2 separate regions of the Homo sapiens genome follow, and region 2 is linked to region 1. Evidence: fine-mapped expression QTL. Tissue or cell type: prefrontal cortex. Region 1 holds a variant in brackets; the other region holds the start of a gene. All regions are shown on one strand. Distances are from middle to middle.

Region 1 (4,162 bases):
ATTCTCTCATCCAAGCACCCTATTTCCCTTCCCAACGTAGAGCCACGCCCTCATCATTTTCAACATTTATTTTTTGGAGACAGATAGGCGTGTTCTTGGTTATTCAACAACTCCACGATCAATGTGGTACTTTATTTAATACGTCTGATTTCACTAATGCACAAACAACCTTGCCTGAGTCTGGTATGATCATTCTCATCTTATAAATGGAGAAGCTGAGACTGGGAGTTTCCAAGACACCCCAGCTCACAGTCACTGGCAAGGGCCGTCCCCAAATCTGAGCCTTCCGCGCAGCCCAGGCTGCTCCCAGCTGCACCATGTTCCGGGTGCAACGAGAGAAGGGTCAGAAGTGAGCGGGCAGAGGACGCCCTCCCCTGCTGGCTGCTGGTGGCACTAGGGGCTCCTGGCAACGACGCCTGTCAGGGACGCCTTTCCAGACGCATCAAACCCAGCTTTCAGACGCTGAAGGTGACATCCTGTGAGGGCGACAGCAGCAGTTATTGGAAAGGGGCCGGGTGAAGTCCTGAAGTACTGACTGCTTAGGCTCCACGCACCATGCTGGGTAGACCCTTTCTTCAAGGCAGCTTCTGAGTTGGACATGCCCATTTTGCAGATGGGAGATGAAGGCTTCTGAATGTTAACTAACCCGCTAAGCTGAAGAGCCAGGAGGATTTGGACCCCGGGCTGCCTTCACAAGCCCACCTTCTGCTGGTCCACCTCCTCATCCCAGGATCTAAGGAACCTGAGGGAAACAAGAGCCCTGTATTAGTAAAGGTTTCCCAGAGAATAAATAGTTATAGATCAATAGCTATGAGATTTATTATAGGAATTGGCTCATGTGGTTATGGAGACTGAGAAGTACTCCCATCTGCTGGCTGCAAGCTGGAGAACCAGAAAAGCCAGTGGTGTAATTTGGTTCAAGTCCAACAGAGTGAGAATCGGACTAGCCTTGGGGGGACAGGGGGTGGGGGAGCCTGTGTAAGTCCCAGGATTTGAAGGCCTGAGAAGCAGGGCACAGATGTCCAAGGAGAAGATGGATGTCCCAGCTCAAGTAGAGGGAGTGAATTCATCCTTCCTCCACCTTTTTATTCTATTCGGGCCCTCAGTGGATTGGACGGTGCCCACCCACACGGGTGAGAGCAGATCTTCACCCAATCCACTGAGTCCAATTCCAACCTCTAGGGGACAGCCTCACAGACACACCTAGGAATCATGTTCCACCCACTGTGTGAGTATCCCTTAGCCTAGTCAGGTTGACACATAAATTTAGCCACCACTAGCCCTCTGTACAAGGCCACTGCCCCACTCCCTGGGCTGGCTTCTGATGCTGCCTGCAGGCCAAAGCACCAAGATCTTGGCTAGGGTCCCCATCCTGTAAGCCATGCAAGGACATTCCTTCCCTCCTGTCTAAAGCCCTTCACCCTTCTAACCACTCCGCTCTGGTGGCCAACGCTTTGAGGGGGTAGCAGAGAAAGCTGTGTATTCAAACCCCTGAAAGAGGATGTCCTAAGTTTGTCTTGGATGGAACTAAACCATCCCACATCCATAACTGTGGGATCCCTGCCATCCCGGAATTATCTTATATTCACAACTCCGACTTAAGGCACAAACAGAAGCTACTGTCTGACACGTTGGCCCTTGGCTGGTACACACAGAGTTGAACCATCTGTTGGGCAGTTTGCCCAAGGCTTGTCTTGCTTTTGGCAGCCCATATTTATCTACAATGGGTCTCTCTGATATGAGGGTAGACTTTGCTGGAGGCCAGGGTAACAGAGCATAGGAATTAGGCATGTGTCTCCTTCCTTGATTTTCCAAGATGCCTTTAGAGGATCCTCAACCTGCTGACACTTGCTGACTAGTAAAGCCCTTCCCTTTTCTACAATTGTACTTACGAATATCAGATAAAGGCAGGAAAGGTTGGGAACATGCAAAAGAGCCCCTAGCAGCTGTGTGGGGAAGCGGACAGCTCCCCTGTGGGGCCTGTGATGGTGCATTGGTATCACGGTCTTGTGTGCAAAGAGGCCGGGACTGTTCTTCCCACTTGCTGGATCAAAGAGGTGGCACACCTTGTTGAAGGTAAAAAGAGCCAAAGGCTTAGAAGGAACTTCCATGAGACTCTCCCTCTCCTCTATTGGTGCTCACTTAGCTGAGAATATGTACAACGATATCCTGGCCTGGGACAAAACAGAGCAGGTGCTAAGAGGATCACGGCTGTCACCTGATATCATTGAAATGTTTGGGGCAGGGGGTCCTCCCTCCGGGCCTTGCCAGGTACCCCTCTACTGTGCTGCTCCATCTCACTCCTGCTGACTCGTCCACCATGGGACAATCCAGAAAAGCATGAGAAAAGCACTTGGCACTTCTTGTGTGGGAAGACATCACAGTGGCCGCAT[C/A]CCCCATGAGTGTTCCTATCTTCTGTGCCAGGGCTGCAGAGAACACAAGCTGTGGCTGCGGCACTCACTGCCTACTCTGCCTCCTCCATTCACATCTTCACACAGATGCCAACTGTCTGCCAAAGGGAATAAAAAATAAAAGCAGAGTGAACTTGACATCCTATACCTTCCAGCATTATCCCTCTGAACAAAGTAGAAATGGTGCAACAGCTGAAGAAAAGGACTCAGAGAGGAGAGAACGGAAGAATGATGAGATGTGATGAGTTAGTGAAGTCAGGCCCCAGGAAATTCCACACCAGCAGCATCAATCTGCCTTCTGTACCCAATGCTGAGGGATCAAAACTTGGAGCCCAGGGCTGGAGCCTCAGGATTCCTCCCCAAATCACACTGGCATGACTGTGTGCAACCCCGGAGTTGGGCTCATGTTTCTTCTGGAATTGTAGAATATAAGGCACAATTTATTCTATCCTTTCATCTTCCTGCTTTAAGTTTAGAAATTGCTGGTGGCTTTCCCTTAAAGGGAGTACATTTAAATTTTTTGTATTAAGTTCTTAAGTTTCTTAAGGCAAAATATTGATGGTACCATCACCATCTTCGTCTGAAAGTCATGTTCACATTATAGAAAAGACTTTCGCTAGACTGAGTCTTCCTCAGTCAAAGATTATATCTTGAAAGTGTATACTAGGTTAAGCAACACTTTTGAAATGTTATCATACTTTAATCAGAATTTCACACACAACACATTAAGAGTAGCCAACAGTGAGGTCAATGTCCTTATTTTCAAAAAAGCATTTTTCTCCAGTTTATTTTTATGAAAGGTCAGTGCCTTGGACATAATGTTCACTTCCATTCAAGAACATTTCTTGATAAGTAGAAATAATTTTTCAGGCAAAAACCTGATGTTCTAAGTTCAATAATAACCTGTTTCTACACTATGCCAAATTCTGGTGTGAAGGGAATTTTTACTGACATGGTAATTTTTTCACACATTTTATGATTTTTAAAAAATAGCCAGGTGTGGTAGCTAACACCTGTAATCCTAGCACTTTGGGAGGCTGAGGCGTGTGGATTGCGTCAGCCCAAGGGTTTAAGAACATCCTGGGCAACAAAGTGAGACCCCGTCTCTATTAAAAAAAATCATAGGATATCCAATAGTCAACAGTTCTCTGGTTTCAAATTTCTGCCAGAAAAATAATCTACAAATCAACTTGTCTAAAGCAAAAGTCCTTATTCATAATAGCTGCCATCAATTTCTAACTATTATGTTGCTGATAACAGCATATAGCAAGTCAGTCAACTCAGTTATTGGGAATATTTTCAGCTGTTAATGTTGGTATGTGTGCAGCATAGGGTTAAGACTGTGGGTATAGAATTCACACTTCCCAAGTTCAAATCTTTGTTTATTGTTTACTAACTGTCCAAACTTGGGCAATCGACTAAACTGCAATTTCTTCATCTTTAAAATGGAGACAGCATATTCCTCCTAGAGTTATTGTAAGGATTAAACAGGCAGGTAAGAGCTAAGGTGATTATTGCAATGCTGAAAAAACCTTATCAGTTTCTCTTATTATATTTCTCAAACTGTGTAGATCATGCTTGGAGAATAAAGTGTTTAAGTTGGTCAATTGAAAATCTTTTCGGAAAATTAAATACCTTTGCTGTTAATAAGTCAAATCAATGTTAATAATATTCTTCTGTGTATGTCCATAGCCTTGAATTGTAATCCAGCCTATAGCCCGTATCATTTTGTTTGAGTTTTTAACAATAGA
Region 2 (4,162 bases), 120 kb before region 1:
GAACATCTGGTCACATTCCCTGAGTTCCCCAAGTATAGGCCAACCAGACCCACTGCCTAACCAGATGGAACTACCCGGGATGCGGGGAGAGGAGACCTGAGATCTGTAAGTTGGGAAACCCTCCGTGGCTGCCCAGCTGTCAGGAAGGACAGCATAGGATGGATCAGACTGTCCAGAACTCTCAAGAAGAATGTGCACCTTTGCCCTTTGCCCAGGGGCCAGGGCCTCTTTGTCTGCCCAGTCACATCCTCCAGCCCCCAACACATCAGCTCCCACAGGGGCTTCTGGAACATTTCCAAGGATGCTCCCATGAGCTGGCCAGGCTCCTACAGCTGTCACAACGTTGTGGCACCTGTTGGCCAGGGACAATGAAGCAGGAGGGCCAGGATGCTGCGGGGTCTTCTCTCCAAAGCAGGACACCACTCCTTCTGTACTGACCAAGCCATAGACTTGGAAATCACCAAGTTCACTTTCACATGGACAGACTGAGTCACCCTGGGCCAGTGATTTATGCTCTCTGAGTCCTAATCTTCCTGTAAACCAAATTCCTGCTGCCCAGTCCAGTGCCTGGTGCATAGTGGGGGCTAGACAGACATCTGTTGAGTGCATGACCAGGGCGCTGTAGGTGGAGGAGGTGGTGGTGGGGTGGGGGAGGGGAATTCCCCTGCTGCTCCCCGTTCTGTGGGAACCAGCTCCAGAAAGAAATCCTCTGCCGCCCTTCCCACCCTACTCCAACTTTGGATCTGCTCTCTGACCTCCTTCACTTGGCCCTAGTTCTCCACCCAGAGTCAACCCTGCCTGAAAGGCACCATGTCCTGTCACCAAGGTCTCAAAATAGGGAAAATAGTCTCTGAAGCCCTCAGCCCGCAGGAGATAGGGCACCCCAGGGTACAAGGCTTCACCGAGGGGCTGGAAAAAGAGCCCAGATCCCAACACCTATAGAAAGGGGCCCTGGCTGTCCAGCTGTGAGTGGCCTTCCCCTCGCCTCTCAGCACACCTGGAAACGACTCCACATGTGGGCGCCGCGGGATGCTGGGTAGCAAGGAGATGACCCAGCTGAACAATGCATTTGGTCCACTCCTGCGAGGGGAGGAGAACGCCGAGGGACAGGAACTGCGCGCCAGCAAAAGACACCCTAACCTGGGGTGCGCCCGCCAGCTGCTTTCCCAAGGTGAAAACCTCCAAGAGGCGAGATGCAAATCCCAGTGGCGTCCACACCCGGAGGTGTCTTCTCTCCAGGTCGCCCCTCCGTCTCATGCGACACCCCAATCCCCGCAGCCTCTGCTCAGCGTGGGACCAAGAATGGGGAGTCCTACCCCTCCTCGGCTTTCCAGCCCCCTAACCCAAGACAAGAGGGCGCGCGCCCGGGCTGGGACAGGTCCCAGCCGCATTTTCGTAGATTGCACTCCCCGCCCGGGAGCGACCCGTTCCAGCAGCCCCCTTCCCGCCCCATCAACGCGGCCGCACTGTCGGCGTCTAGAGGCGACATCCTGGCAAAGACAGGAATCAAGTCAGAAATTCAGGCTCTAGAAGCAAAGGCTGCGGTGCCTCCTGGCTGGAAGAAAACGGCGGGTGGGTGGAGGATGCGGTGCGCGGGAATTTCCCCACGGACGCTTGCTGTTTCCTGCTCACCTTTCAGGAAGGTGCCCCTCTACCTGCACCCTCCCCTGCAATTTGGAGCTCGTCCGCGAGCTCAGCTACCCGCTGGCTCCCTCTGCCCGCGCCCGCACACCACAGACTCCGCTTACCGTACCCTACCCGGTCCTAGAGGGCCCAGAGGGGATCTCCTGAAACCAACTCGCCTGCTTGGAGCCAGCCCCGACGCATATCTCGAGAGTGGCGGGAGGCAAAGCAGCCGGAATGCCCGAGAAAAAAGTGGGCGTCAGAGGCCCTTGTCCTAGCGACTCCCCCACCGCACCGACTGAGTCCCGGGACTGCAGGGATCTAAGCCCTTACCTGTCTCGGCGCCTCCTTTCTGTGCGCTCTGCTGCTCCGGAAGCCGGATCGAGAGTCACAGTGTGGTTGGGCGCAGGCGGGCCGCTCGGTTTTCACCTCGAGGACCCGGACTTGCACTTGCAGAGCCGCTGCGTGGGGGATGTCCCTCTTTTTTCCTCGCCCCGGCGGGCTCCTCCGGCGTGTCAGGGTCTCTGGGTTCCAGCTGGAGTTGGCGCTCCGGCCCCACAGCTCTTTCCAGCGTCTCGGACCTGTGCGCCCCGCCCCGCGCTGGACTCCGCCCCGGGGTCCCCGCCTGCCTCCTAGTCCAGGCCAAGGGTGGATGCCCAGCTCCCCCACCCCACCGCGTGCTCTCGGGCTGGTGCGTCCAGGGCGCGGGCACCGTAGCTCCGGCCGCGCTGACGCGAGTCCCCGGCAGCGGGGGCAGCCTCTCGCACGGATTTCAGCGCCTTCGCATCCCGTCTGAATCGGACCACACAGTAGCCGGGTTTCTACCGTGCGCTTGGGAACAGTGAGCACCGCCCTCTGCCGCCAGTCGTGGCACCGCACCCGGGTCGCGCGCGCAGGAGGGGAGAGTCCTGTCTTCCGGAGGTGCCCAGTGCCAGCGTCCGCGCCCACTAGAAGGTGACCCTTTCAAGGAAAGCCCGGCTCCGACGAGTGCGGTGTGGGCCTTTGGAGATGGCGGTGAAGGAGGAGGCCCCCAGGAGGAAGCTGGGGATGGGGACAGTTTGCTCTGCTCAAAGCCCCTGAAGTCCTCACCCAAACTTTGCGATGACCACCACTATCAGATTCCATGGCCGTATAAAGACAATCCCAGGAGTGCCTCAGCCCATCTGTCCGGAGAGTCTGGAGCCCTTCACTTTGCTTCTGACAGGTTCGAAATCCTCCCACGACCTTCCTGGTTAAACACAGGAACTGCCCATTCAAATGACTGGTGCCCAGGAAGCTCTGGGCATACAGGATTGAACCTGTGGCAGGACCCTGAAGGTCTAAAAAGGTGTTCCCCATCGTTAAACCCCAGCCAGCGGATTATTGGCAGGTGGGAACATGGACTCCACTTTGTCAGAGCTTCCCATTGTTTTCAAGAGAATCTGGAATTCGAGAACTTTAAAAATAGTCTTTGGGTTCGTTAAAGCAAAAATCTTGTTTTGGTCAAAGAGAACCTGTCTCAGACTGAACACAGTCCACAAGGCTGCCAATTAAAAATTTTTGGATAAATGAACTTCAAACTCCTTCAGGTTGTGACATTCTGTGATTCTGCTTTTCCCACCTTACCTGGAACCTGACCCCACTCTCCCTACCTCTTAGCATCTCTCCCGCATGATCAAAGGCAAGAGAGCCAGCTGTTTGCTTTCCTCCTGGGGAGGGGCTGCGATTGGGCAGGTGTTCTACATGCTCAGGGCAACTTCCAGATATGGAGGCAAAAAAGCTCTGTTGCTTGAGTGGGGGAGATGATGGGGTGGCCAGTTGTACGCCCTGGACACATTCTTTGCAATAGTGCATACTTACCAACTTCAGCTAGAGGCTTCTTCGCTCATGGACCATGCCTGCCCTATTCAATGGGGGCAAACAGACCCCTGGGACCATCTGCCCGCTGGTGCTTTCATGGAATCCTCTGAGATGAGTTAAGGCATGGTTGCTTCCACACAGATCTGGCGACCCACAGATGTCGCTGTAGTAACTCCAAGTCCTGACCACCCTCAGCAGAGTAGGAGCTTTTTCTGGGGATGGACATGTGGTCCCCAGGGAGACAGTGGGTGCTTAGAAAACAGTGCAACAGAGTGCTACGGGGAGTTGTCTTAGTTTAGGTTTCCCCCAAGGAGACTCCCAGACAAAGACCTGAGTGCAGGTAGTTTATTGGGAGCAGATCCCGGGAAGCACACACAGGGGGAGGGGAAGTGAGGCAGGGAAGGGAGAAGGGCCCATACACGATATGCTAACGAGCAGGGTGCCACTGCGGCTCACTCCAGTTGACCTGCAGACCGTGTAGAACATGCCTCATGGTTGTTCACAGCAGCGCGGGGAGGCTGGACATTCAGCCATCGATTCCTACCCCCTACTGATGGACAGATTCCCTGAGAGCCAGAATTTCCCTCACTTTTGAGTTGTGTCCCGGTGTGGTGCAGAAAGCCCAAGGCTGAAAAGAAGAGAGCTTCAGGCCTTGGATGGGAGGTGTCATGGTGCCTGGAACTGCATCTGCAGGTGAGCA

Direction of the effects. Alleles are on the strand shown, and positions count from the first base shown. SD is a standard deviation of normalised expression in the study named.
For the expression in prefrontal cortex of the gene that starts at base 2,417 in region 2, allele A in region 1 goes with a lower level than allele C (small effect, 0.34 SD a copy in ROSMAP).

The links. PIP is the estimated chance that this variant, and not a neighbour inherited with it, causes the effect.
Region 2: it holds the start of PROKR2, and the variant in region 1 is fine-mapped to the expression of PROKR2 in prefrontal cortex (ROSMAP, PIP 0.95).

What each region holds. Positions count from the first base shown.
Region 1 is chr20:5,431,897-5,436,058 of GRCh38, forward strand. LINC00658 (long intergenic non-protein coding RNA 658) reads right to left here. Exons shown (of 5, transcript NR_038240.1): 3 at 2,276-2,509; 4 at 1,893-2,174; 5 at 61-742. Among named protein-coding and RNA genes, the nearest start is that of LINC00658, 12 kb to the right of the region's middle. The variant C/A (reference allele first, on the strand shown) is at 2,394.
Region 2 is chr20:5,314,538-5,318,699 of GRCh38, forward strand. PROKR2 (prokineticin receptor 2) reads right to left here and starts at 2,417. Exons shown (of 3, transcript NM_144773.4): 1 at 1,957-2,417.